Homo sapiens: one gene and its partners. The protein of the gene in region 2 interacts with the protein of the main gene of each other region in a biochemical or structural test. Each region holds a gene or a part of one and is shown on either strand. Other genes may lie near its edges.

Region 1 (7,969 bases), on a different chromosome or scaffold from region 2:
ACACACATAAAACATGATCGTCACTGCAGAAAGTACTGTTGGACAGCTTTTGTGCAGATAAGCTCTTTGGATTCTTTTTTGGGACTTTTGAGAGTTGGGTCATCAGAAACCCCAATGTTTGGAGGTACATGAATCTCCTCCTATGGTTTAGCCAATATCTAGTTAAGTTTTCATGGTGTTTTAGGGTGTGTCTACACAATAACCAAAGAGCTAAAGCAATTTAAAAAAATCTTTCCAGCTGGTGGTGAGAAAAAGACTCTATTTTATTTTATTTTTCTGAATTGTTTACCTTGGCTCTATGTAGACACTAGAACAACAACAAAGACCCAGTGAAACTTTTGCAAGGAAAGAGATACCAAATGAAATCATTGGAATACAATTTTTAAATTAATCAAATGAGGCCTCTACCTGGGCAGCCTTCTTTGAGCTCAGGTTACTCCTGTCTTTGTAGACAAAACAAGCAATAATACGTTACAGTATGTTTAAAGAATCTCCCACCAAACATCATTATATTCTGCATATACAAATGATATTACCAAATAAGGAAACCAAAAGCATAGTTCCTGCATTGGAATTTCGACATGCCATTCATATTCTAAGAAACAGAGGAGCAAAGAGGAACAAGCGTGGGTTGAAGAGTCAGACCTGGGCTTTAGTCCAACCTCTGCTGTTAACCACATGTGTGGCTTTGATAATGTTACTTAATCTTGGGAAGCCAAGGTTTCCTCAGTAAAATAAGAATAACAATATCTATTCTATAGATCTACTGTGAGGAGTAAGTGGGACATTCCACACAAAGCATTCCGCATAATGCCTATTTCAATGAGTACCTTATGCAAGCATTAGCATTAATGTCAGTGTTAGCATTTTAACAACCAATGTCATACCCAAAAAAGCCTCAACAAGGATTGCACCTCATCATTAAATAGCAACAGTAGTAATGTTTTTTGAAAGTTAACAATTCTTAAGTAGCATAGTATTGAATTGTCTAAACTCAAAACTTCTAATTTCGTCTTTTTCCCCAGTAAATATAGCCCTCCAATTATGTTTTCTGCTTATTGACTTTGAACAGTATCTAGTTAAATGTGTGTGTGTGTGTGTGTGTGTGTGTGTGTGTACAAAAATAAAGCTGTTATTGGAATATTTGCAAGAAAAGGTTTTATGAAATGCAAATTTGACAAGACAACCTATAATAAAAAGCCACTAATTATAAATATACATATATGTTTATCAATACAGGTATAGGTATAATAGATGCACACATATGTTCATATAAATTCTTCTCTTTTTTTTCTTTTTCTTTTTTTTTTTTTTTTTTTTGAGATGGAGTTTTGCTCTTGTTGCCCAGGCTGGAGTGCAATGGCACGATCTCAGCTCACTGCAACCTCTGCCCTCCTGGGTTCAAGCGATTCTCCTGCCTCAGCCTCCCAAGTAGCTGGGATTACAGGCACGCGCAACCATGCCCGGCTAATTTTGTATTTTTAGTAGAGACGGGGTTTCTCCATGTTGGTCAGGCTGGTCACCAACTCCTAACCTCAGGTGATCCGCCCACCTCGTCCTCCCAAAGTGCTGGGATTACAGGCGTGAGCCACCACGCCCAGCCATAAATTCTTCTTTTGAGGATTGAGTTTTATCTACCCTGTGGTGTTTAATCTACACTTAACTGCATCTTTTTAGCTACTATATCTTAATAAATTATGCTGAAACTTATTTCTAAGCAAAGCTTTTTGCCTCTTCAGGAAGGGAAAGACGTTGACATTTAGTTGATATAGTATTTTCTCAATATAGTATTTTGTGATACACTTATGACATAGTTATTATCTCTTTTATACATAATTATGTTGAGTTTTAGAAAAGCTCAGTGATTCTTAATGCCACATGGCTGGTAAATGGAGTGGTTTACATTTGAACCCAGGTATGTCTCAACCCAAAGCCTCTTCCTACATCACACTGAATGCCACAGCAAGTCACCATCCACTTGCCCTCCTCTCAATTGGCCACTTGCTCTGGAGACACAACAGAGCCTATATCATTCATTCTGTTCCTCCCTTCTCAGTATGTTCCTTTAGACTTGTCCTAGGACTTCTGTCACAAAGTCAAACTGGAGCCCACAATGTTGTTAATTAACCTTGTTACTTTGTCTACATATTTTCAAAGTATTTCACGACATTCACTCAACTATTCATAAATAGAGACAGGCCAAAATCACAGTTCTTTGTGTAGTGTTTGTCAGGATCAAACCCAGTTGGCTTCTTGGTTTTTATTAAAGATATCTCTCTTATTTGCAGAGCAAAAAGGATTTCTTCAAGAGTACTTAAAATTGAGACTTCCTTCTATTTGGCATTAAGCATTTGACACCAAGATCAGCTTCTAACTGAAATACAGTATGTCGTGAATGACTTAATGGATAACCTGAAATCCCTTCTGCCTTAAACAACAGGAAGTATCACAAATATTTGAATCTGCCTCATTCTAAATGCAACTAGCCAAAATATTCCTGGAAAACAAATCTTAAAACTAGTATTTTAAATCTGAAATTTACTCTTACCACCATATTGTTAGTAAAGTTAGCAATTGGGAATTCTAAGCATTTAACCTTTGAGCTGGTCTTGTGTTACTTACAAAGTGATAGCTATATGCCCATTTTACCTGGGGACATTTGCATGCATGACTAAAGGCTCCTAGAGTTTTGCAGATATGCCATATAATAGCATCTTAAATCCAATGTTTTTTTTCCTTGATTTCTTCCCTAAGGTTTGTCTTGCATAGAATAAAACTCTTCTCCAGTGGTATGGTAGATATGTTTTTCCCCACAGTATGATGCCGTTATCATGGTAGTGTCTGGCCCTGTGTACCTGGATTTGACAACTTTTTCCAATATTTTATATGTTTCTAGAAGACCTGATTAGTACAAAATAACTTTTTCAACATTCACATGCTAGAGGAAAAAAGTTTCGCTTCCAAAATCCTAATTAATTCCCACCGATACAGTTCATTAAGTATGGAAGTTTCCCTGACAAAAAGTTGTTGCCTTAGCAGGAAGGGTGCAAGAAAAGAACAACCTGATAGGTGCATTTGTCAGTTGGAGGATTCAGTACCAGAGGACAAGAAGCAAGGGAAGGGGGAGGCTTCACACTTCTGAAGCAGAGCCTCCAAAAGCTTCTTTCCAACAAGGAACAAAAAGAAAATGGTGGCAGGAATGAGTCAAACTCAAAAGAGCAGAAGCTGGCATTCACCAAGGCAACCCAGCCCATAAGACAAGAACGATCACAGTATTTCTCCAGAGAGGCAAGCACACCCCACATCTTCTAGAGCTTCCTGATGCAGGGTGGGAAGATGAAAGAAACGGAGAGTTACTTACTGTTTGGGTCTACGTTTTCACAGAGCTCGGTCTTTGCCTCACCGTTGGGTCTGTCACTGGGTTTGTGTGACAGCCTCGATGACATGGTGGCTGCTGTGACTACCGCCTTGAAGCTTCGCTTCCGTTTCTGGACATTGAGTTCAGGGTGGAAAATGATGATGTACACTTTCGGCATGTATAGCATCCCCAGCGCCACTGATGCACTTAGGTTCATGGAGATTGTAAGCGTGGTAGTTTGTATGTAGAGCTAGGAGACACAACACACAAGGCACTATTACAAATAAAATGACTGCAGTAGGGGTCTGAACACTTAAAGCGATGTCAAGAACGACTATGGCTAGGAGATAAAGCAATCTTCAGGGCATTTTGATAAATAAAGGAAAGCACAATAACTCTGCACAGTTATTGGAGAGCATATGCATGTATTAATTGATTGAATGCTATTGGGTCAATCCATGCACATGCTTGCCCTACAGAAGTCTCTTATATTAAAGTTCAGAGTAAACCTTTAATCATATTTGAAGGACTTCTAATTGAAGTGGCAGCTAAATATAAAGACATGAAGACCATAGAAATCTGTAATCTTGATTAAGGTGTGGTTAGGTTTTATCTTTCATACATGTAAAAGAGGGTTCACACTCCATGATTTCTTCCTACATTGAGATTCTGGGGCCTTTTGAGAAGTCTTTATCTTAATGTATGTCTCTTTTTATATTGTTTTCTAGAAAGGCACGCCTTTTCCCTATCTGCTGAATAGTGAGTTGACTTTCTCTGAAAACTAAGATCTTCTTGCTTAATTCTGTCTTATAAAACACAAGTGACAAGTGAACAAGATCTAGTGATGTTGGCTTGTCTACTCTATATTGTCAAATTACTAATGAGATGCAACGCCTTATTCTGGAGTTGTGTTATTTGCAGTTTGGATGGTTTGTGCTTGCCTACTGTTTTAGACTAATTGTCCACTATTTCCCAACTCCCTGACCCCCTGATCCCCTGTCTTGCCTTCCCAGGGTTCCGTCCATTTGGGCTGTCCTTTAGATCATGAATGAACTGTACTCATTCAATCACAGAACTTTTCTCCATGCCCCTTTTCTTTATTTTTGTTTTCCTACGTATGGAACGTTCCTCCTTTTCTTCTTAGCATGCCCATCCCAGGCTGCCCGCACTCACAGCCTCAAGTCTAGGCCAGCTTCTTTACTGATACACTCTCAAAGGACTTCTTTAGATCATTTGTCTCTGTTGTAATTATGCACTCAGTATCTTGATCATTTTTCTGCCCATTTTCCTGCTAGGCCTTAAGTTCCATGAAGGCAGGATCTGTCTTTCTGGGACATTATTATTGTCTGCAAAGAAGGCACTTGATAAACATACAATGGATAGGCTCATGTGTTTGTCTAATGGACACCTTTTTCCTACCTATAACTCACTGGTTAAACAGCCTATCGCTATACAAAAATTTCCATCAGACATATTGGCTGCCTGGACATTTCTGATCTTAATTCTTCAAACAGAGGCCCTAGTGAAATCAAAGACAACTTTGCCATCTCGTCTGGAAATAATACAGTTTTCTAGCCAACATTAATTTGAATATGTATGTCTCCAAACGGTTAAAAGGAGCTACCAGCTGCTGACTATAATACATAATGAATGTAACATAGAAAGACAAAACAATGTTGAATTAATGACTCTTTAAAGTGTAAATTAGTTCATATTTTTAAAGTTCATATTTCCCTACTAGCATACCTTTAGACTTTTAATGTCATTCCACCTTGCCAGCCTACACTGTTCAAGAAAGGCTTTACATGGTCACAGGGCTTTATAGACATAGACAATTTTTGTCACCACTGTCACCGTACTTATGAGAGATTTGCAAACCATGGCTTAGTTCAAAAAGGAAAAGGATGTCAACAAACCTATGGGATCTTAGGTTTTGTTTCTGTTTCTCTGCTTATGAGTGAATTTTGCAGTTGATGAAATTATTCAGACTTCTTGTTTTATTATTTATAATTATAAATTATACATGCATATATGCTTATGTATATTTGTATGTGTGTACACATATGTTTTCTTTTTTCAACTTTTAGATTCAGGGGTACATGTGCAGGTTTATTACATGGGTATATTGCATGATGCTGAGGTTTGGGGTATGAATAATTCCACACTCAGGTACTGAAGATAGTACCTAATATTTATTTTTTCAACCCTTGCCCACTCTTCTATTAGGCCCCAGTGTCTACTGTCATCTTTATCTCCATGACTACCCAATGTTAAGCTGCACCTTATAAGTAAGAACATGAGGTATTTGATTTTCTGTTTCTGTGTTAATTCACCTAGAAAAATGGCCTACAGTTCAACATGGTTTGTTCTTTTTTATGGATGCATAATATTTCATGGTATATATGTACCACATTTTCTTTATCCAGCCCACTGTCGATGCACCTAGGTTGATTCCATGTCTTTGCTATTGTGAAAAGTGCTGTGAGTACATGCGTCTTTTGGTGGAACAATTTGTTGTCTTTTGACTATGTACCCAGTAACATACATACTTTTTCTTAACAAAGACTACTTAGCAATTTAGGACTCTACAACTATCATGTTTATTTTATGAAGTGTTTAGTTTCATCATTTTTAAACTAGAGACCATCAAGACTTTGATTTTCATTTAAAAAATTTTGCAGTCTCTGGTGACACTTCGAAAGTATGTGAAAACTGAAATAAACTTCACTAATCATATTTTTTCTACAGCCCCTCCATCCCTGAATCCTCTTGACATAGCACAGTGGATAAGAATGCAGATTCTAGAGCTAGTCTATCTGAGTTCAATTCCCATTTACTAGTTTTGTGACCTTGGACAAATTACTTCTCCTCAGCTTCGGTATCTGCAAAATGAGCATAAAAATAGTACCTACCTCATAATGTTGTCTTGCTTGATGGTTAAATAAGTATTTGTAAAGTGTTTAGTGTAGGGCCTAGCACATAGTATTAATAAGTAATATGTAAGTTTTTTTTTTTTTTTTTTTTTTTTTTTTTTTTAAAGACAGAGTCTCCCTCTATTGCCCAGGTTGGAGAGCAGTGGTGCGATCTCAGCTCACTGCAACCTCTGCCTCACGGGTTCAAGCGAGTCTCCTGCCTCAGTCTGCTGAGTAGCTGGGACTACAGGCACGTGCCACCGCGCCCGGCTAATTTTTTTGTATTTTTAGTAGAGACGGGGTTTCACCGTGTTAGCCAGGATGGTCTTGATCTCCTGACCTCGTGATCCTCCTGCCTCGGCCTCCCAAAGTGCTGGGATTACAGGCGTGAGCCACCATGCCCAGCCTTATTTTTTAATAAGTACAGTCATGCATCACTTAATGACAGAAATGTGTTCTAAGAAATGCATTATTAGGTAATTTGTTATTGTGCAACCATCATAATGTACTGACACAAATCTTGGTGGCATAGTCTACTAAAGTCCTAGGCTAAACGGTTTAACCTATTGCTCCTAGGCTACAAACCTTTACAGCATGTTACAATACTGAATACTGTGGGCAATTGTAACACAGTGGTATTTATGTATCTAAATATAGTTAAACATAGGCTCACACCTGTAATCCTAGCACTTTGGGAGGCCGAGGCGGGCAGATCACCTGAGGTCAGGCATTCAAGACCAGCCTGGCCAACATGGCAAAACCCCACCAGGTGTGGTGGCGGGTGCCTGTAATCCCAGTAACTCAGGAGGCTGAGCCAAGAGAATCACTTGAATCTGGGAGGCACAGGTTGCAGAGAGCGGAGATCACATCACTGCATTCCCAGCCTGGGAGACAGAGTGAGACTCCATCTCAAAAATAATTAATTAATTAATTAATTAAAACAAAGAATAAGCATGATAAAAATATAATCTGTTTATCAAAATGTCATTATGTGGCACATGACTATATGTAGGTATGAAGGCTAAGAAGGCTTCAGTCCACAGAGATCTCAGAGGTATTGGTCCCCAGGGACCTGCTCCCACTAAGCCTAGCAGGGAAGCTAGGCTACTGACTCTTTGGCTTTTGGTGAGGTAGGAGGCTCACACTGAAGTTATGAGTTTTCACCCCACCATCTTCTTTAGTACATTCTTTAGTAAATTCTAGCATATCTATATTTAGTCCCATGGTTATTATTTTACCTGATGCTTATTGTATAATGCACTGCCCTGTTTAAGGTTAGGTATTTCACATCACTTTCCTTTATTTGTAACCCAGGAGGCGGAGTTTGCACTGAGCCAAGATCACGATCACGCCACTGCACTCCAGCCTGGGCGACAAAAAAAAAAGTCCGATGTGCAGAACCCATAGCTATAACTATTCTCTCTGTCTTTCAGTTTTCTGAACTGTAAAATCAAAATCATAATAGTTTGTACCTCATGTGGTCATTACGAAGAAGTAACCAATTAATATATGAAAATGGTTTAGCAGAAAGCCTGGAAAATAAGTACCCAGGAAATGTTATCTGTTAATATTTATTTTCTGCCAGGTTAGGTTTCTGGGGTTTAGATCTAAGGATACGGCTTTCACTGTAACCACTTTATATATTTTAAACTCTTTATGTATAGGTTGTTGATTAAGTAATAGTGTTTATAAAGCCCAC
Region 2 (6,184 bases):
TTTGCATAATACTAATTTATTGCCGTCCTGGACTCTGTGTGAGCGTGTCCACAGAGTTTGTAGTAAATATTATGATTTTATTTAAACTATTCAGAGGAAAAACAGAGGATGCTGAAGTACAGTCCCAGCACATTTCCTCTCTATCTTTTTTTTAGGCAAAACCTTGTGACTCAGTGTATTTTAAATTCTCAGTCATGCACTCACAAAGATAAGACTTGTTTCTTTCTGTCTCTCTCTCTTTTTCTTTTCTATGGAGCAAAACAAAGCTGATTTCCCTTTTTTCTTCCCCCGCTAATTCATACCTCCCTCCTGATGTTTTTCCCAGGTTACAATGGCCTTTATCCTAGTTCCATTCTTGGTCAAGTTTTTCTCTCAAATGATACAGTCAGGACACATCGTTCGATTTAAGCCATCATCAGCTTAATTTAAGTTTGTAGTTTTTGCTGAAGGATTATATGTATTAATACTTACGGTTTTAAATGTGTTGCTTTGGATACACACATAGTTTCTTTTTTAATAGAATATACTGTCTTGTCTCACTTTGGACTGGGACAGTGGATGCCCATCTAAAAGTTAAGTGTCATTTCTTTTAGATGTTTACCTTCAGCCATAGCTTGATTGCTCAGAGAAATATGCAGAAGGCAGGATCAAAGACACACAGGAGTCCTTTCTTTTGAAATGCCACGTGCCATTGTCTTTCCTCCCTTCTTTGCTTCTTTTTCTTACCCTCTCTTTCAATTGCAGATGCCAAAAAAGATGCCAACAGACACTACATTACCCTAATGGCTGCTACCCAGAACCTTTTTATAGGTTGTTCTTAATTTTTTTGTTGTTGTTGTTCAAGCTTTTCCTTTCTTTTTTTTCTTGGTGTTTGGGCCACGATTTTAAAATGACTTTTATTATGGGTATGTGTTGCCAAAGCTGGCTTTTTGTCAAATAAAATGAATACGAACTTAAAAAATAAAAGCTGGTATCTTAAAATGTAAGAGAGTAAGACTGTGAAGCCTAAAATGACTGGCTGAGAATGAACCAGAAATGCCATTTGCCAAACAGTTGTAACTAGAAATTTGATTCTCACGGTCCATTCTTTTCTTTGTCCTTAAGATGACATTGTTAGTGTTCACGTCCCATGTTCAGTGTCCAAACCGGCAATGTAAAAAGTATCCTGTGTGGTTTAACAGGAAATCTGTTTATGTCTCTTTATTTGAAACCAGTTTTACTCTCAGTGGTTCTTTAAGTTCAATGAAGTCTGCCAGGAACATTGGTTGGTAGTATTATTCCGACACCTTTAATTTCCAAAATCTGAAGTTCCTGCTAGTTTACCACCTTCATGATCTTCTTGAACTGGTAACTGATTAGGTTGAACTTATGGAAGATTTGTGGACTTAACTCAAAAGTAACCTCTCAGTGTTCTATAGAACATGTATTTGTGTAACTGAACCTACCAGGAGAAATGTTTGGAATTCTATATGTGCAATTTTTCAACAAATGCAAAAAAAATACAGCACATGTATTGACAAGCTTCTGTCAAGCAGCTTGAGTTGAAATTTGATTTAAGAAAATAAATCATGATTGTTCAAAGCTGCTGGGACGTTAGAATTAGGCCATGATACTGGTCTCATTTTAACTACAGTGGTATTTGGCACTAGTGTAAACTTCCATATAAATCACTCTTTTGGAACAACAAAGGGGGAGGGAGAAAAATCACGGCCTGTTAAATGAGTACCAAAGCCGCCCAACAGTAATGAGATGTTCTCATCCTTGATTCTCCCAGCCTCAAACAACACAGCTTACTTTTTTTTTCCCTTGCTCAGAAAGTACCTGTAATTTAACAAACAGACTGCCTGTAGGTATAGTGCAATTACAAATGCTCTAATCATTGTACATACATCTCTCTTGATATTGCAGCATCCATACTGGCTTTGTAATCATTAATTTTTTGGCAGATTGAATGTGCTGTATTGATATGTATCTATGTAATTGTATTGTATGTCTATAGCTAATTCACGTTTTGAATAATGTTATTTTATTTACTTTTTTAAGAGAGGAGAATGTAAATTTGTCAGTTTATTTCTGACTAGGGATATTTTCTTTCCATTTAGAAAAGAAGAAAAAAAAAAAACCTTACTGTCATACAGAGCGGTACTAGCGTCGTGCTGTATAAAATCATTTGCACATTCCTGAGTAGAGGTATACTGATTATAAGACCCAAAGGTAATTTCATAGCAAAATACATAAAATCAGTCGGAGCTTTTATACAAACATGGAAACCAACTTTGTAGAACTTTTGCCATTTGATCTAGGATTGGAATATGAGCTTTTATACAATTCATATTCTTATTTGGCAAATGCACAGTTTAGTATTACCTCTCTGATGGCCTTTACTAGAAAGGCAGTTTTAGAAGCTATTGTGATCCACTAAGGAAATGTTTTAACAGCTAGAGACCACTGCTTGCCTGAAAGGGCGTTCTTAAATTTGGTGCAGCAAAAAAAAAAAAAAAAAAAAAAAAAATTAAACAACAACATTTGAAGGCCTACAGTGTGTATAGAGAAAACCTCATCACAAGATCATAAGTGTTACAGTTTTAGGGAATCAAGATATTCTATTTAATAGAGCTATAGTAAATGTAGTCAATTAAACCTGATCTCAAAGCTTGAAGAAGCTGAGCAAAACAGGGAAAGATTGTTATATTTGTCTTTATGAAATTGGGATGGAATTTGCTATGCAGAATTGAGGTTTGTGGCTTCGCTGTTCCTGTAGGGTGCATGACAAGATCCCTTCTCTTGAGAAAGGAAAAAATTGATCACCCTAGCAGCAGTGATGCATAGAAACCTAATTTTAGCCACACCAGTCAATCGAAGCTAAAGGATTTTCTTTTTTGTTTCTTCGGGGTTTTATTGAAGGGGCTAGGGGCGGGACGGGATTCTTTTCAGTTTTGTATAAAAACAAAGTTTACTCATGCTTTATATTATATTGTGATTGCAAGCGTTATAAGCGTGTGCCACTGGCCTCCTATTGTTGATGCTTAGGTAATGGAGGCCTGTGGTGAGTTTTATGGTGACTTGGGCATGTCTTATTCAAAAACAAAAACATAAAACACAGAAACCTTTCTTCAGCATACCAAGGCAAGCAGCCATTTCATGACTCACTTAACACATTGCAGTGTACCAGTTTACAGATGATTTTTCCCTTTTTGCGTGACATGGCAGTTCTAACCCCCAGAGAATTCCTTATTTGTAAATTGGAAGTTTCTACTATGCCTTACAGAGCTTAAATTCAGAAGTTTGTGCCTCATATCTGAAACAAAGGGAAATAACACACCCATTCAAAAGTAAATAAATCTCCTAGAAGTTTTTGTTTTTAACATTTCCATATAAAGAGCTCTGTTGAATGTCATGAATAGACTGGAAAAAAAAATTTTAAGAACCTGCATATGTTGTTTACTAGCAGATGACAACTACAAAAGGAATCTGAAGAACACGTAAAACTTGTATTTTTTTTTTTTTGGTAGATTAACTAGCAGGCCTATTTTAAAAAGGTAATTCAGCTAAAGGGCAATTTACTTTTTTGTACTTCAGACTATCTTGATTGTCAAAGTGTACGAACTGTAATTTTAAAATTTATACTGCCACATGATTGTAAATTTTAGTTGTCTTAAGTTAGGAATTGGTGAAAAGCTATTTATGCTGGATTTGGGTCAAAATGACTTATTTGCAAAAAAATAAATAATGGGAAGAAAGGGCTGTATAATGAAATACTGCAAGACTCACATATTGGTTGGAAATTTCCCTCAAATCACCTACCGATTACCCTTGATTTCCCTTTGTTTTCAGTTTCTCAAAACGAATGAAATGAAATATAGCAGAATGTTAACCCATATAAAAATAAAGTGTACCCAAATATTGTAATGTATATTGCTGCTCTTCTTCAAATTAAATAAGGGTTTAAAACCACTTAATTGGTAATCAACATCTCAATTGATACAAATAAGGTGTGCTTGGTATACATTAATATTTTCTTCCAAAGATATATCTTTGGTTAGAAACACAAAAAAATAAAACTAGTAATATTGTATGTTTATCTATCTCTACATATTTCCAGCATATGTAGCGTTAATAGATCTGTCCTGGTAACTGTGTCTTTGGGATTTCATTTTGGTTCCATCAAATTAGGAAAAGAAATGGCTTAGTTGTATATGATTAGCTAGAGATTTTTGGAGCCAGACACCTGCTGTTTAGTAGATAACTTAGTACAGACCCTAAACTTGTCATTTGTTTTTCTCACAGAATAGCCATTTCCTGCTGTCTTCCCAATGATCACTGCCCTTTCAATAACACTCTTGCCTCTAGAATCATATGTTCAAAGTATGAATACACACCTAGCACATAGTAGGTGCTCAAATATTAATTTCCTCCTTGCCTTCCTTATCTACCCTGTGTCCTCCATTTCCCCGTATGATTCCAACCCAATATAGCAAATGACATTTACATGTTATGAAAACATCTATTGGGTAAAATCAGATCTTGGATAAAGAAATTCTGACTTTTATATAAGCTTTTGGTAGACAGAAAAAACAGAAAGGTATTCGTTGGTAGAACATTTTTAAGTTCAGGAAAGAAAGCTGGAATAATACTACGTAACTTTGTCCAGGTTACTTTGACTGAAACACGTTTTTGGTGGATTTCTTTTCCTCAAAGAACTCTCTAAATGCAACTCCTTGCTGGATTCCTCACCCATCATCCTGTTGGAAACCCTTACTAGACCTATGTATTTAGGGAGTTTTGTCAGAAAACATTTTTAACTTGCAGTATTTAAAAGAATATTTACTGTTCCTAAAATGTCATTCAAATGCATGTACTGTCTATTGTTTGGGGATGGGAACTAGTTTTGCAAAAAACACCTAATGTTGTATAATAATGCCCCAATGATCTTGCTGGTTAAAAATACAGTATTTTTGGCCATAATTTTGTACTATAGTATTCTTCATTGTTGAGTTTTGCTTCCATTAAAGTTGCCCGAGCCCCTCTCAGAATGTTTTGTATTAGTAGGAGTACTGAAATACATCTTTCCTTCCTTAACACACCTTGTGCATATTGCATTTTCCAAAATAAACAAGTTTAATGGTTTCAAAAAAAAAAAAACACCAAAAAACCTTTTCCCTTCTGTGTATAATCAGAAATAAGAGTCTCCTGTAGTGGAAATACACATATTGGTAGCATTTATCAAATTTGCTCTTTGAAAAAACTTGCCTTAATTTAGGTTATAATTAACTGGTTAAAAAAAAAAGTAAATACCTATCCAATAAAGAAAGGAGCCAGCAATCTTCAACCTGAGGCAGTCTCCCAATCAGTAAAAAGAATCCACACATCTGCCCTGGTTTACTGGGTAGCACACTGGACTCAGGCCAATGGCTGGCTTAAGAGTTTTGCCCATTTCAACACTGGCAGTGAATAGGTAGACTCCACATGGGAAAAATGACATGTCACAGGTGTCCTCTCTGAGTTTTAGAAACACATCCAGGCTTTTGAGGTCAGCTAAAAATCAGCTGCTCCTGGGAGTTTTATTAAGTGGAGGTGATGGTGGCAAGTGGCTTTCTGGAAAATAGGTACTTTTGTGGGGACTTTAAGCCACAGCAAAAGCAAAACCTGTTCCTGTTACTCCAACTGGCAGCCAGCCCTTGCTTATGGATTTTTGTTTTTCAGAATATGTCCCCTCTAAATACTAAGAGATGAGAGTGTCATTTTTGCTTAAAGGCCTTCAGCTCTCCTTGTGTGATTTAGAGACCATTTCCAGTAGATGGTATTCTCTCTCTCTGTCTTAACTGTTCAAGGAATGGCGTGGCACTGACTGTCATCTAGCACAGGCCTGGAGTGATGGTTCCCACACCCTAGTTCTGCAGAGACACTGGAGTGTTAAGCTATACAGGAGCACTCCCCTCTCTTTGGCCTTCTAACCTGAGTTTGACCCCTTTAGGACCATGATCTATTTGTACCATCATTCCAAAGACCCCCACCCAGAGGAAAAAACACAAACTCACTAAACAGTCATTGGGCCAAATATTTAACTTGACCTTTTGGCTCATAGAGCAAGCCTATGCCATCAGATTGTCTTCTGTCCTGTCTTTCTGGAAATGGTAACAAAACAGTTGGCTTGAAAGCTTCTCTGCTTTACTCCCCATCTTTC
Region 3 (8,136 bases), on a different chromosome or scaffold from region 2:
CCTCACCAGAATTCTCCCACAAATACCCATAGTCCTTTACACCCACCTCCTACCACCAGAGCCTGCTAACAGACAAATGCAAAACAAAAGCAAAGACATGAGGTTGAATTTTTTAAATATCATTAGGTCAGTCCTTTATCTTCATGCCAAGTTCAGAAGGACAGGTATAGCCTTGATGTTCAGACAATATACACCATGAGTTTTAAAATACTGAAATAGTCAAAAAAACTCCAGCTACCTACCCACCCATCCACAGACCCTGGGGACTCCCAGACCTCCCCATGACCAAGCAGCAAAAATATTAACGCCTGGCCCTGGTACAACAGGGTATCTCCAGGATCTATTACCCCCCTGCTGTCTGTTGTGATTGTTTAGTGCCTATGTTAAAGCTTTCGACTACCACCCTTAGAGCATCCACAGCCTCACTGTGACTTGGTAGGTGGCCAGCAAATTATGCATGGCACTGCAACCTCTGGGTGACATCTTCCATTCCATATGGTGGTCAAGACAACAAGACCAGTGATTATACTGCTTTAATCACTTCAGGAACAAGAGATAATTTCTTCACATCCTAAACAGCCCCAAATTCATCATTTTTGAATGTCCTGTAACATTACCACGCTTTTACACAAGAAGCAGCAAAAATACAGAGAAGCTAAGTGATTTGCCTAAAGTCATGCAGCTTACTGGTGAAAGAACTAGGAGGTAAACTCAGGCCTTTGATTCAAGATCTGGTTCTTTTTTGTCTTCAACACACTGTCTCACTAAGGTACAATATAAATAGCCAGATAACTTGAACTGGCTTGATTCTGGAAGGGCAAATACGAGCTGAGAAGAGTAGAAAAGGGATGCCTGGGGAAGAGAAAGGCAACCTTAAGAAAGGCTGGGTCCCTTGTAGTCCACTGATCAGCATGAAGACCCAGAGAACCAAAGAGCCTGCAAGATAGCTCATTATATTCCAGATAACTTGACTCCTGAGTGCAGTCTAGGTTTTTTTTTTTTTTTTAAAAAAGACCTGAAATTCTTCTGGTCTTCTCCTTAGTGACTATGTCCTTTCTTTCAGGAGGGCTTCCTTGGAAACTCACTGCTGCAATGCTCAGAAGGAGCTCTTTTCAACTTCTTCTTTGGTTGGTATTTCACTAACGTCCTCTCTATTACCCTCAATGCATCACCCAATCTCTCTCTCATTGGTGTTTTTGATGATTTTTGTCTCCTCCACCTAGCATGTAAGGTCCGTAACAGCAGGGATTTTGTCTACTTTTTTCACCACCCCAGAATCCAGTCTAGGATTGGCAGTAATAGGTGAGCAAGAAATATGTGTTACAGAAATGCACATAATGAAAGTCATCTACCTGGATATACCAAAATGTGTTTTCATAGAATACTTTCATTCTCAATGTGATGTTGGCTATTCTCTCCCAAACAAGAAATTATAGAGAATTATTTAAAATACAGTTTAGAATCATCACTGTATACAAATCCAGAGCTTACGCTGAAACTCCCTTTTCTAAATTCTGCAAAGTCTCTTTCTCTTTCCTCTGCCCTTCACTCTCTTTCTCAGTAAATCCATCATCACATCACCTCTCTATTCAAGGATCTCAAAATGGGCAAGACCGTCTTGTTTATTGCTGAACTGCATTTTCTTTGTCTTTTTTTTCCCTGACACAAAGCATTTAATCTGCGTCTGAATTTATTGTTTAGATTCTATTCCATTTACAGAAACATTCAGTACAATTAGACTGGAACAGAAAGAAGAAAAGTGTGAAGCCCATGGTAAAAAGATGTATGTTTACATCCTTGCCTACAGCATTTAATAATTGGCACGAGCTTTCAAGGAAGCTGTGGTTCATACTCCAAGTTCCGTTTGCGCTTCCAGCTGGACAAAATATAGACACAGACGCACTCAGCTAAGTAATTGGATTCACTACCTGGAATATTTAAATTGTTTTCAGACACTGGAAAATGGCTTAAGAAGATTAAAGAAAAATACCCTAGAGGATAACAGGCTATAATTTACTAGGTGGAAAATCTTTTCGGCAAGAAGAACGCCTCATTCTCCTATAATTCCTTCTGATTAAGAGATGTATTAGTCATTTGGACTTAAATTTGCTTAGAGCCTGGCAACTCGGGTTTATTTCAGTAGGTTTTTCTTATCGAACCTTTAGAATGACACCCAGGACATAAAACTGATACCATAATGTTCTCCATCCGAAGATTCGCATGTTTTCAGCTGGATAACTAATTTACGTGTTTTGAAGACAACTGGGGTAGAGGGGAAGGGGAAGTCATTTGAAGTCCTGGGGTCTGGGCCGCTCGTAAAGCATTAGAGACCCCGGCGCTGGGCTAGGCTCTGCCCTACCTGGCAAACGGTGCAGGTAAATCGTGGGGCAAACTCTCAACCTGTCTATTTCAGGCAGAAGACTCCAATCAGCTCAGTTCTCAAAAGTCAGCCCTCCCCACTTGCCTGCAGGCCCATGAGCCCTCCAGGACCCCTCAAGGGCCCCCATTCTGTTCACGCCCTCCCCAGATGTGTCCCCGCAGCCCTTTTCAGGGACCCTCACTCCGGAGCCAGGCGCTGAAGTTTGGCATCAACGACCACCTGTTGGCTGGACCGTTGTGTCCTCCGCCGCCTTGGCTCCCACAAAAGCGCCAAGAGGGTTCGCAATCACTAAAGTGTTTTGAACTTCAGGTCCTTCCTTCTTGAAATCGGGCAAAAGAGGTAATAGGGGGTGCGTCCGCAGGCGGAGAGGGACGCGATTTGTTCACACCAGGCGCTTTCCAGTTGGTCCCAACTTCACACTCCCTACTTTCCGAACTCTCAGGACCTGTCACCAGGCAAAGCTTGCCCCTCCCTCTCCACTGGCCCAAAAGATGTAAGACCCTCAGGGGGCGCCTGCCAGACCCAGAAAGGATGGCAACTACTGAAGCCCGATGAAACAGGAGCGCGCGCAAAGCTTCTGCCCTTGGACATCCGCTTTGGCAGATGCCAACCTGTGCGCCCGAGGCTGCCCCTGCCCGCTCCCAGTGCGCCCATTGCATAACGCGCCCCTTGCCCCACCCCCACGACGCCCGCCCTGCCCGGTGCCCGAGCCAGCGCCCCGACTCGGGCCGCCCCAATACTTACATCATCCCACTTGACGAATTTGGTGCCCTTCTTGAGGCTGTCGGACACGCACACGGGCTTGAGTTGCAAGGCGTGCACTCCGGGTTGAGCCCCGGCCATCTGGGCTCATCTGGGCTCCGGGCGGCCCGGGCGAGCGCGGCAGGGACTGGGGACCGTGCGCGGGGCGCGGGGCGCGGGGCGCGGGCTCCTTTCTCTGCTCCGGAGGCGCTCGACTCTGCTCCCCGCCGGCCTCCCCGGCCTCCCGGCCTCCGCACCTCCCTCCGGCGCCGCTCAGCAGGCAGAGCGCGCGGGGGCGCAGCGCCCGGCCATGCCCCGGGCGGGACGCGAGGTCTGGAGCCCGCGGTGGATGAGGAGCCTCGGAAGGCGAAGAGAAGCCGAGCCGGTCAGCCGAGGCTGCCAGTCGCGGCGGATTCTGCTCCTCCGCCGCCGCCGCCTCAAAGCGCACCATTCAGCACATCCTCTATACACAGAGGGAGAGAGCGAGTGACACACGCCCGGCGCCCCCCCTAACCGCTCTTTTCCCTCCTCCCTCCTCCTCCCCCCCGCCCCCCTTCCCCGCCACCCTCGCTCGCTGGGTCCTTCCTTCCCCCCGCGGCTCCCAGCCCAACTTTGCACGCTGGGTCAGGCGCCAGGAAGCGGGGACGCAGCGGCACCTCCTGGCTCCCGAGCCCCATTGCAGCCAACGCCTGCCTCCCGCATTCGCTCTGAGCATGCCCCGTGCCCTGGTTGCAGAGGTGCTAGGGGTCCCCAGGAGCCTTACGCTCTTTGGGGTTTTCTTGGGAATTTGGGCTCGAGCTCCGGAGCGTCTTTGGATCCCAACTGGCTGGGAAAAGGGGCCCATCGGGAGGAACCAAAGAGGCAACCCCTGGCTTTTGGCTCTAGCTGGAGCTCTCCAGCGCCAGCCACAAACCAGCTTTTTGAAGAGAATTATCATTTATCAGCAGAGAAGAGCGCAGTTGAGAGGCTCTTTGAGGAAACCTGGCCGCGCCTGAGAGTTTGCAGCGCGCTGATCTTGAAACCCGGGCAAACGGTTACGTTGTGCTTTCGAGACAGAAAGCCCATCCTAAAGAAAGCAAAGGTTTTATTTTCCGAGGAAGAAAGAGGGTGCCCTCTCCCGCTCCTCTCCTTGAGTGTGTAGGATGTGTGGCGGGTGGGGGAGAGTCTTATTAATAGAAACTTGCTCATTTAGGAACATAGGTCCAGGAATGTTTGTCTTCACTCCTTCCACAAACATTTCTCAATTCAAGAAAGAAAGGGAGGGAGGGAGGGAAGAAGGGAAAGAGGAGGACCAGAATGGATAAAATTTTAAAGACTGGTAATACCAAATGCTTGAAAGGATGTGGAGCAACTGGAACTCTTTTTTTTTTTTTATTAAGGAGAGAGAGGAGAGGGAGAGAGAGAGTGAGTGAGTGTGAGAGAGAGAAAGAGAGAGAGAGAGAGACACACGCGGGAGGTGGGGGGGCGGAGAGAGAAATAGCTTGGAACTCTTGTTCATTGCTGGAGGGAATATAAAATAGTAAAACCACTTTGGAGAATAGTTTCTTATAAAGTAAGATATTTACTTATCATACAACCTAGAAATTCCACTCCTAAGTATTTGTCCAAAAGAAATGAAAACGTTCAAGTCTGCAGGGACTTGTAAAGTGATGTGAAGAACTTTCTTCTTAGTAGCCTGCAAATGTCAATCAACAGGTGAATGGATAAACAAACTGTGGTATGCCCAAATATTGGAATACTATTCCACAATAAAAATGAGTGGGCATGCAAGATCAGGGATGAATCGCGACTTTAAGCTTTGTAAAAGAAGCCGGACACGATAGACTGTATGCTGCCTGATTCCATGTGTAGGAATTGCAGAATAGGCAAGATATTCTATGTTGACAGAAAGCTTGCCTGTGGCCAGGGATAGGTAGAGATGGACAGGGAAGGGCTACGAGCACCTGATGAGCATGTCGGAAATGTTCTATATCGTGTGTGTGTTTATCAAAACTTGTAAGTTCTGTAAGTACGCCTAAATTGAGTGCAGTTTGTTTTAAATAAATTATATCTCAAAAAGGTTGATTTTTAAAAAGAAGAAAGAATACGAAGAGAGAAAAATGGAGAGAAACACTACATTCTCTTAATCCTTCATTCTCCCTGTTCTCTGCCCTCAGGACTCCAAGGCCCAATGCTTATGAACTCAGTCAAAAGATTACCAAAATCCAATACAGAAATTTGCTATTAAATATTTCAATGCATTTAAAATATACTTATTGGTAGCCAGCTGTATACTAGCCACTATTGTAATCACCATGGATAACCTGGTGAACAAGACCCATGACTCTTGCTGTCATTTGAGGGTCTTGCCTTGTGCTTGGAAGCCAATTGCTACAAAGAATTTCATGAAAAACTGACTGGTTTCATTTTGATCACATGTCCCTAAACTAAAACCTGAATGGTCCACAGTCCCTCTAGCCAGCAGCCTTGGCTTGCTAATTACCTCACAGAAGGTATCAGTCACCGTCTCAAGTCGATTTTCTCTACTTCAGAGTACTGCAATGAAACTCTGCTTCCAGGGCTCCAGAACTTCTCAATTGTCCTTACAACTGATCATACCAAATTGTTTTCCTTTCCTTTCCTTTCCTTTCCTTTCCTCCTTTCCTTTCCTTTCTTTTCCTTTTCTCCTTCTATCTCTTTGTTATTTACTGGAAAGATTATTGGCCAAATAGTTTTTACCTGTCACAGTGGCTTAGGAAGGCAAGACAGGGCTGCGCTCACTAGAAGAGGAGATTGGAGAGTTACAATGAGCTCTAAGCAAAATAAGAAGTAGATTGAGCCTCCTGTGGTAGTTTATTGCATCATAGCTCTCTGCTCCCTGCTCCTTTCTGCGTCCACACATTTTTCTTTGTGACCTTACAGTTTTTACTAGACACCCTGTTTATTTATCCATCCCATTGATGTTGGACAATGTGACTTGCTTTGGCCAATGGCATGTTTGAAGATGTGATATTAGCAAAGGCTCAAAATATGCTTTGAGGTTGGGCTTTCCCTCTTGGGTTTCTTATCATTTCCATGAGATAAACATGCCTCAGGGAGCCTCTGATCTAAGGAGACAATCAGGACAGACCTAAGCCCCATTTACAGCTTGGAAGCAAGTCCAGTAGAAACCATCCTAGATCTCCCAGACTCAGCCAACCTGCAGACTCATGAACATGACAATAAACGTTCATTGTTGAATGGCACTGAGTTGGGAGTCATTTGGTAACCACCATTATTGGCAATGGATAGTTGAGTATTTCATCTAGCATCCCTGATTCCTCCCAGCTGTTGCTGTGAACGTGGACGTAAAAAGGAGAGAACGCTGTAGAAATCTGAACAGGATTTGTCTTCAAGACAAACATGGGCTGCAAGAGTTTCTTCAGCCAGCAAAATGACGCAGTTTGTTAAAGGAGAACTACAGGATAAATACCTTCAACATGTAGCATGATGCTTGAAGCAGCATGGTTTAACTCCCTCATTTTCCACACCTTTTGTTCAGTATACAAGATAGAAATGTTTCTAAAGTGTGGAGTTTTTTTGTTTTTTTCCCATTCTTTTTTTTAAATTATTATTATTATACTTTAAGTTTTAGGGTACGTGTGCACAACGTTCAGGTTAGTTACATATGTATACACGTGCCATGTTGTTGTGCTGCACCCATTAACTCATCATTTAGCATTAGGTATATCTCCTAATGCTATCCCTCCCCCGTCCCCCCACCCCACAACAGTTCCCGGTGTGTGATGTTCCCCTTCCTGTGTCCAAGTGTGGAGATTTTTGCTATGCAAAGGGATCTGTAAGAAATCCAAAATTGTGTGAGCCAGGCCTGTGATCCGTCAAGTTCGGTGCTGTGTACTGTTTTTTGAAACAATAGGAAGGTCTGTTTTTTGTGAGAGCACAGAATTGCCCTCTGGGAATGTCAGCCTCAGGGAGCTGGCAAAGCTAACCTTTATTGAGCACTCACTGTGGGTCAGAGCACTAAGCTAAGCACTTCCCAGACACTAAAAAACATAACCCTTCCTATTCAACACCACTCTCCACCCTCTTTTTCTTGTAAGCAAACCCTGACTTAATTTGGGTGGTCGTCATGCTTAGGAAACATGGCCCCTCTCTCTTTCCAAGGAACAAACTATGATTGGCCTAAACTAATGTCAATAATTCCATTCCCCTTTGTCTGTAACTGGTTTAAGAGCTATATGAGGGGCTCAGTTCTGACTAATGTCTTCAGGGAAATTCTCTTTCTCTGTCTCATATTGTTATGTAAAGAGGACACTGACAAGAAAGATGCAAAGAAACCTGGTCCTTCATGAGCTTTTTAAACCCTTTAAATTTTCTTTAGACTTTTTAATGAGTGAGATAATAAATCTCTTTATTATTTAAGCTTTATTGTTACTCTCAGCTGATCTGGTAGATAATATTATTGTATGCTATTTTACTGATTTATATACTAAAGTTTGGAGGATGGATTAACCTCCTCCAGTTACAAAATTCGGAATTGAGATGGAGACCTAGGAAGTCTGACTTTAGAACCTAGACTCTTAACTACCATGGTAGATACTTCTACAACTTATAAGGCAGATATGAGTAGTTTCTCTCTCCTTTTAACCACAGTGTAATATAAATAGTCCTAATTTCCCTAGAAACTAGATTGTGGTATGTACTCCAGTCTCTTGTCAGCTCATAACTCACTTGAGGCCTGCCACAGTGGGAAGGACAGTGTTTTGATTTGAATAGACATATCTTTTAACAGCCAGTTCTACCAATTACTACGTACGTAACCGTGGGAAAGTCTCTTATCTCTTCTGAAATACAAGGTCCTAATATGTAAATGGAGAAATAATAATAATGTCAAAGCTTTTTATGTCACATACTCTTCTCAGGGTTTTACATTTTTAATGCATTCACTGTCATATTAACCCCTAGGAGCCGGGTTACTATTATCTCCACTTTATAGCTGGGTAATCTGAGTCAGAGAAGTGTTAAGTAGTTGTTCA
Region 4 (7,969 bases), on a different chromosome or scaffold from region 2:
ACATAATTTTTTTTGGTGGGTTTTGGTGGGGGGGGGGTAGTTGTTGTTTTCTGACCTTTTCCCCATTTAGCTTAAATTAGTTCTTTTAGACAGCATCATGCAAAAGTGATGCAACTGTCTTACTGATATAGATGCCACCTCTGTTCATTTATGAAACACAACTTATTTAGCCTCCCCAAACCTACAATACTCCAGAAGGATTCAATTTAGGTAACTGAAACACAGAAAGACAAATAAAGTTCCCAAAGTCACCACTGGCTTTTTTATTCACACCAAGCAACACTTCATATCAGTTATTCACTTACAGTTTATGCACAGTGTAATATTATTACTAATTCCGAACTTTCATTGGAAAGATAAAGTGAAAACAAATGCTGTCATAAAAATAGAACACTAGGCCGGCGCGGTGGCTCACATCTGTAATCCCAGCACTTTGGGAGGCCGAGGCTGGCGGATCACCTGAGGTCAACAGTTCAAGACCAACCTGGCCAACATGGCAAAACCCCGTCTCTACTAAAAATACAAAAATAGCCGGGCGTAGTGGTGGATGCCTGTAATCCCAGCTACTCGGGAGGCTGAGGCAGGAGAATCGCTTGAACCCAGGAGGCGGAGGTTGCAGTGAGCCGAGATTGTGCCATTATACTCCAGTCGGGGCAACAAGAGCGAAACTCCGTCTCAAAAAACAAAATCAAAAACAACAACAAAAAAACACTAAGTAAGTAACGAAAAAACCACCAGCCCTCCATTCAAGTTTAATTAGTGGTAGGGATTTTTCCTCTGGTGGGGGGGTGGGGGTGGGAATGTGTCTATTTTTTAAGTAAACTCCTTATGCTTTTGGTGGCACCGTGGAAGCAGAATGAATAAAGCCAGCAGTTTTTTTCTACTTTTTAAGCAGATTATTGCTCACACTAGGAAAGCAAGGGAGTGAATTTTATCAAAGCCTGGGGGCTATCCACACTGTTATTTTGCTCTTTCCTGTGGTGTAGGAGGTTCTATTCTCATGCTGGGGAGACGAAAATACGTCAAAGGAACACCAGGGGTGTTCTGGAAGATCGCTTTGCCACTTATCTACCATGTGTATGCCACTATCTTCTGGAGGTGGATTAATTCAATATTTTGTAAATTAGATTTTGAGAAAAATTGGGCAAGAGTGCAAACCTTTCCCTCCACCCTGCCACACACCCTGACTCCCTGGTTTAAATGGTCTCTCACTGGAGTGACAAATTGATGAGTTTACAATCAGCCCTTCCCAACACTCAGTTTTAGCTCTAAACTCAAAGAGGTTCATTTTAACATTACAATTATGCATTTACTCAGGAGTAGTGGTAACCAAATAATACTACTCTATTCTCAGGAACTACCAACTCATTGAGAGCCCTGTAATCATACCACAATTATTCTTGTGGCAAATTATAATTAAGTACCTCTTCACAATCAAAGACTCAAATTACAGGATAAAAAATAAAACCCTAAATAAATTGAGTACTGTGACCAGTAAATGGGGTCAGAAGCATCCCAACAAACCATGTCTGGTGTACTTCTCTTAGCCGAATAAATCGCAGGCAACATTTTATCTTTAGTTTTGTTGCAGGCTCTTGGTGGATACATTCCCTGCTTAGACCCACCATCTGTTTCATTCTTGTCCCCTGCTCTTACTTCCTATAAGACAGGTCCTTCTGGAAGCTGCCTCTACTCTTTCTCTGTTTTAGAACAAATCCAGTTTGTACAAGAGGAAGTCTTCCTCTCTCTCAAGTATCTGTGTTTGGGCAGGGTTTAGTGCTGCTCTGACTATGAGGAAGTAAGCAAGTCTCTCACTAGCCATCGCCCCTCTGAGCAAAAGGTGAAATGGCCTCCACCTCTAGATCATTGAGCTAGAGGTCTACCAGAATTGCCATGATTTGGTACCACCTTCTTTGACTGCTTTTCTCCTGTTTCTTATGATCCAGTCCAGACTCACACAGCCTGAAAATGTGGTAGCTCTTCCTTAGGTGCCACTGGTCCATCACTCAATAATGTGAAAGGAAAGGGATCCATTTTTGAGTCCTCCAGAAGGTTGGTGTGTAACACACAGCTCTGAGTTAAAAAGTAGTTAGAGGGTAAAGCTTCTGTGGGTACTTATTGTGAAAGGCCCCATTTTTTTTTTTTTTTTTTGAGACGGAATCTTGCTTTGTTGCCCAGGCTGGAGTGCAGTGGCACGATCTTGGCTCACTGCAACCTCCATCTCCTGGGTTCAAGCAATTCTCCTGCCTCGGCCTCCCAAGTAGCCGGGATTACAGGCGTGTGCCACCACACCTGGCTAATTTTTGTATTTTTAGTAGAGGTGGGGTTTCCCCATGTTGGCCAGGCTGGTCTTGAACTCCTGACCTCAGGTGACCTGCCTACCTTGGCCTCCCAAAGTGCTGGAATTACAGGTATGAGCCACCGTGCCTGGCCAGTAAAGGCCCCAATTTTTTTAAAACAATTTCAGTAGCCTACAGAGTCGGTTTGACCACAAAATATGCACAATGATGGCTAACCCTGAGCTCCACTCAGGGTGAAGGGTGGAAATGGAAGTGACTTGAATGTCTCAAACATACAGACACACACACACACACACACACACACACACACACACCACTGTTGTTTATAGAAAGAAAGAAATGGGGGAGGAGAAAAAATAGACACAGAGCTCTTCATTTAAAATATGGAGTTCCAGTGTTACAATGTCCCCTTTATTAAATTATAAATGCAAAGATTTTTACAGGGCCACCTTTTGCAGCCTCCCAGCTCCCTATGGAGCAACAGAATTCAGAAAGACGAAGCTTATTAACAAGAGTGCAGCCATCATACAAACTGCAGTATGCCAAGGAATTAATAGAAATAGCACTTGCAGAATCAGTAAACTAAACCATCTTGGGCTCTTATCTTCGCTCATAAGATAAAATACTATTAAGAATAATAAGTCCAGGCGCAGTGGCTCATGCCCGTAATCCCAGCACTTTGGGAGGCTGAGGCTGGCGGATCACTTGAGGTCAGGAGTTAGAGACCAGCCTGGCCAACATGGTGAAATCCCGTCTCTATTAAAATACAAAAAATTAGCCGGGCGTGGTGACAGGCGCCTGTAGTCCCAGCAACTCAGGAGGCTGAGGCAGGAGAATCGCTTGAACTCGGGAGGCGGAGGTTGCAGTGAGCCAAGATCGTGACACTGCACTCCAGCCTGGAGTCTCAAAAAAAAAATAAAAAATAAAAATAAAAAAAAAAAAGAAGAAGAATACCAGAGCAAAATTCAGAAAACTACACAGCCAGCCTATGATTGGGAAGAGTCTATGAGATATGATTTAAAATAAAATAACCAGTCAACTGTACTTCAAATGACTACTTAGCCAAAATATCCAAGAAGTAGTGTTTTCTCTTGATTTCTCCTTGAAAGCACTACTCAATTGGCTAGGAAGATTCTGGCCATTCCCTGTCTTTCCTTAGGGGGATGGAATGGAACTTCTGTTCCTTTCAGTGACTTCTACCTGACAGGCATTTTACAGGCATTATTTCATTTATTCCTCACAACAAACAGATGAGGAAACTGACACAGAGGTTATGTGACTTGTCCAACCTCATCCATCTGTAGCTCTTGGTATATCATCTATAGCCCTTGCTTTTTTTGTGGTGTTTCACTGCCTACCGGAGGGATTTTTGTTCGTTTATTTGTTTTTTGGTCTTTGATGAGGTTGATGCCATCTGCCTTGGGGCCCCTGTCATTCTCCATGGCTATCATCAAAGAGCAGTTGTGACAAACTCCTCTCCATTTTCTAGGAATGTTCAGCAAGAGAGGAAATGGTGGTAAATACAGGAGATAAGAGAGTATTCAAGATCCTAAGCTCTTTCCTCTGCAATATTCCTCCAGGCTGGTAAGGATGATCTGTCTCTGGTAACTGTCAACTATACTTTTTTTGCACTTGAGGACTCTTCTTAGTCTTGCCAGGTTTTCTTACATTTTCCCTCTTTAAATCATTCCCAAGGAGATTCTGTCTAACTAGTGAATTTCTAGAGTCACTTGTTGTTTCCTTTCCTGGATGTTTCATTGTTGATGGAATGAAAGCACAGTGTTTAGGTGGAACATCCACCCTTCTCTGTCCCTAGGGTTCTTATTGCTTACTGTGAATATAAAACTTTGATCAAATATACCTTCTATTTTTTTGAGACAGGGTCTCACTCTGTCACCCAGGATGGAGTGCAGTAGCAAGATCACCACTCACTGCAGCCTCCACCTCCTGGGCTCAAGCGATCCTCCTGCCTCAGCCTCTCAAGTAGCTGGGACTACAGGTGTGCACTACCACACCCAGCTAATTTTTAATTTTTTTGTAGAGACACGGGTCTCACTTTGTTGCCTAGGCTAGTCTCAAACTCCTGGATGCAAGTGATCTTCTTGTCTCAGCCTTCCAAAGTGTGGGGATTACAGGCATGAGCTGCTGCACCTGGCCTCAAATATACTTTGTTTTATATTATGAAATATTTCAAATAGAAAGTACAGGGACTATAACATTACAATCTTGGACTCACCGCTTAGCTCTACAAAATCCTAAAATTGTGCCATATTGCCTCACGTGTTAAGAAGTGAGATACAATCTATATAATCAAGACCCCTTTATGTACTCCAAAATCTTAGTCTTCTCCCTCCATAGAGATTACCAATATCTTGAGTTTGGTGTTTATCATTCCTAGGTATGTTTTCATATTATTATTACAGATGTAAGTATCTATAAAAGATATATAGTATTGGTTTACATGTTTAAAATTTACATATGGCCAGGTGCGGTAACTCAGGCCTGTAATCCCAGCACTTTGGGAGGCTGAGGCGGGTGGATGACAAGGTCAGGAGTTTGAGAGCAGCCAGCCTGACCAACATGGAGAAACCCTGTCTCTACTAAAAATACAAAAACTAGCTGGGCCAACGCTACTCTCCCAGCTACTCAGGAGGCTGAGGCGGGAGAATCCCTTGAACCCGGGAGGCAGAGGTTGCAGTGAGCCGAGATCTTGCCATTGCACTCCAGCCTGGGCAACAAGAGTGAAACTCGGTCGCGAAAAAAAAAAAAAAAAAAAAAGAAAATTTATATATATATATATGGTACACATTCTCCAGCAACTTGCTTTTTTCCCCTCAATATAATATGTTAGGATTTATTTATCTGGCTAGTTCTACTTCATATGTTTTAATTCATTTTTATATGCATAAAATATTCTATATGATGAATACATTCCAATATATTTATTCATTCTCCTGTTGATGGACATTTAGGTTGTTTGCTTTCAGTGATAAACAATGCTGCTGTGAACATTATTTTGATTTTTTGATCTCAGAATGAATTCTCAGTTACTTAGACAAACTGGCAAACCTAGGTCCAGCTTATCTTTTGGACTATGCAATTTGCATCATTCCTTCTTGCCTTTTCAGTCCTGTCTTCCTGATGCTTCACTATGAAATGTGGTAGAATTATCAACTATCTCTAGTGGGAGGTTAAATTTGGCCTACGGAAAATCTCTTCCCAGTCCCAAGAAGCATCCTTCACGTTCTAACTGAGATTTCAATTGAGAATTCCTTGGCCTTGGGACCAGAAGAGAACGTGTTAAGAACTGAAATACTATCTATATAATCAAGACCCCTTTATGTACTCCAAAATCTTAGTCTTCTCCCTCCTTAGAGATTACCAATATCTTGAATTTGGTGTTTATCATTCCTAGGTACGTTTTCATATTATCATTACAGATGTAAATATCTATAAAAGATATACAGTATTGGTTTACATGTTTAAAATTTACATATGGCCACGTGTGGTAGCTCATGCCTGTAATCCCAGCACTTTGGGAGGCTGAGGCGGCTGGATGGCAAGGTCAGGAGTTTGAGAGCAGCCAGCCTGACCAACATGGAGAAACCCTGTCTCTACTAAAAATACAAAAATTAGCCTGGCGTGGTGGCGCGCACCTGTAATCCCAGTTACTCAGGAGGCTGAGGCAGGAGAATTGCTTGAACCCAGGAGGCGGAGGTTGCAGTGAGCCGAGATCGTGCCACTGCACTCCAGCCTGGGTGACAGAGTCAGACTCCGTCTCAAAAAAAAAAAAAAAGAAAAAAGAAAAAAAAATCATACCCACAGCAACAAAGCAACCTTTAATCTTGTTAAATTCCCAAGATGCTTTTGTTCGGGCCCCAGTGAAACCCAATTATTTTATGATAAGCTTCATAGTCAAGGCTACAGGGGACCAAATTTGTGATGAAGGCATCAAGCCAAACTCAATTTTCGAAAGCTGCATGCTGACCAGGGAAACTCTCCTGCTGTAGTCATTTACAGGAGGCCTTAGGGCTCTCTGGTTCTTCCACAGCAGTTCATGTTTTATTTATTTATTTATTTATTTATTTATTTTTGAGACAGAGTCTCGCTCTGTCATCCAGGCTTCGGTACAGTAGCGCAATCTTGGCTCACTGCAATCGCTACCTCCCAGTTTCAAGCAATTCTCTTGCCTCAGCCTCCTGAGTAGCTTGGACTACAGCCGCACACCATGACACCTGCCTCGGCCTCCCAAAATGCTGGGATTACAGGCTTGAGCCACCGCGCCTGGCCTTATGTTTTTAGCATTTTACATTTTTCTTCTGTGGTTTTGGAAACTTCTAGGTCTCTGTGATTCATCATCTCTTTTTGTCTTGCATTAGCGACAATATATTCTGGCCAACTGATGATGGAAGGAGAGCCAGAGAGCCAATCTGCAAGTTTATAGTCAGTGCCAGATCAGATCAGTGGTAATACTTTCAATATTCTCCCTCTGCTCTGAGGGTGACTGCTGGGGTGTCTGTCTTTCACTCTGGACTTGTGTGCCCTTTTGGCCTTCTTTTTCAACCTAGTTTTTGTTTTCCTTGGCTTAAACATTTTATTTATTTTTTCCATCGATATCAAAATAACACACGCAGCTGGGTGCAGTGGGGTGCACCTGTAGTCCCAGCTACTCAGGAGGCTGATATTGGAGGATTGCTTGAGCCCAAGAGTTCAAGGTCAGCCTGAGAAACATAGGGAGACCCCCATCTCAAAATAAAACAAAATATAGTAAAATAAAACATGCTTATTGTAGAAAATATGTCAAGTACAGGGATATAAAAAAGAAAAAATCATTCATAAACTCATCCAGAGGCATTAATATATCGGCATATTCCTTCCATTTTTTTCTGTGTGTGTTTCTTATAATATTTGAGATCATATTGCACATTCAGTTAATTTACCTATTTTTCGTAACATCTATGTATGTATGTATGCATGTATGTATGTATCTATCCATCCATCCATCCGTTCAAGGTACCTTTTTCCAAAAAAAGATCTAATGTTCTTATTTAACATTATTCCTAATTATTTTCCCATGTTATTAGGATCTCTATACAAGCATCATTTCCAGAGTCAAAAAAGTATGTGCATTTTGCATTTTGATACATACTGCCAAAATAGTTTCCAGAAACATTGTCCCAATTTCAGTTCCAAATAGTTTTAGAGAGCCCCCTTTCTCATTATCCTTATCTCTTTTCTGGTCCATTTCTAATCATTTTTAAAACTCTGGTTTTACTGCAGACAAATCTTTTTTTTTTTTCATTGAGTCAATGATCTTAAACTCCAGTATATTCCAACTTCCAGCTTGTCTAAAACTTAACTTCTCTTGACTCTAGAATTTCCTTCTTCTAGGGTGAGCTAACAGACTACAGTTTGTTTTCAGTTCAGGGAGGTAGGGCAGTGAGAGGAGCTTCTCCTTGAGATTCAAATAACCAATATAATCCTAAAGACATCTTGTGAGAACTTTCTAAGAGCGGAGAGAAGAGCCTGGTATTAAAGCTTCTGGGTTTCCAATGCTCTCAGATTGCCCTCAGCCACTGCACATGAATCTCCATAGAAACTGAAAGTCACACGTGGCCCAATTGTTTCAGGGTCCTCAGAGGAGTTCTCCCTCCTCCTTCCCCTCCCCA

Evidence for each region.
Region 1: the proteins of GNAQ (region 2) and GRM7 form a complex in vitro, tested with the Homo sapiens proteins (one study listed by BioGRID).
Region 3: the proteins of GNAQ (region 2) and PLCB1 form a complex in vitro, tested with the Homo sapiens proteins (2 studies listed by BioGRID, with this or other methods).
Region 4: the proteins of GNAQ (region 2) and BTK form a complex in vitro, tested with the Homo sapiens proteins (one study listed by BioGRID).

Annotation. Positions count from the first base shown.
Region 1 is NC_000003.12:7,675,688-7,683,656, reverse strand, and holds part of GRM7 (metabotropic glutamate receptor 7 isoform a precursor), read right to left. Parts: intron 3,633-7,969; coding exon of another isoform or gene 3,609-3,632; coding exon 3,362-3,608; intron 1-3,361. UniProt on the Homo sapiens protein: G-protein coupled receptor activated by glutamate that regulates axon outgrowth through the MAPK-cAMP-PKA signaling pathway during neuronal development.
Region 2 is NC_000009.12:77,715,055-77,721,238, reverse strand, and holds the end of GNAQ (guanine nucleotide-binding protein G(q) subunit alpha), read left to right. Parts: 3' UTR 1-5,142; downstream 5,143-6,184.
Region 3 is NC_000020.11:8,127,739-8,135,874, reverse strand, and holds the start of PLCB1 (1-phosphatidylinositol 4,5-bisphosphate phosphodiesterase beta-1), read right to left. Parts: upstream 3,610-8,136; 5' UTR 3,224-3,609; coding exon 3,125-3,223; intron 1-3,124.
Region 4 is NC_000023.11:101,375,951-101,383,919, forward strand, and holds part of BTK (tyrosine-protein kinase BTK), read right to left. Parts: intron 2,074-7,969; exon of another isoform or gene 1,909-2,073; intron 1-1,908. UniProt on the Homo sapiens protein: Non-receptor tyrosine kinase indispensable for B lymphocyte development, differentiation and signaling. Binding of antigen to the B-cell antigen receptor (BCR) triggers signaling that ultimately leads to B-cell activation.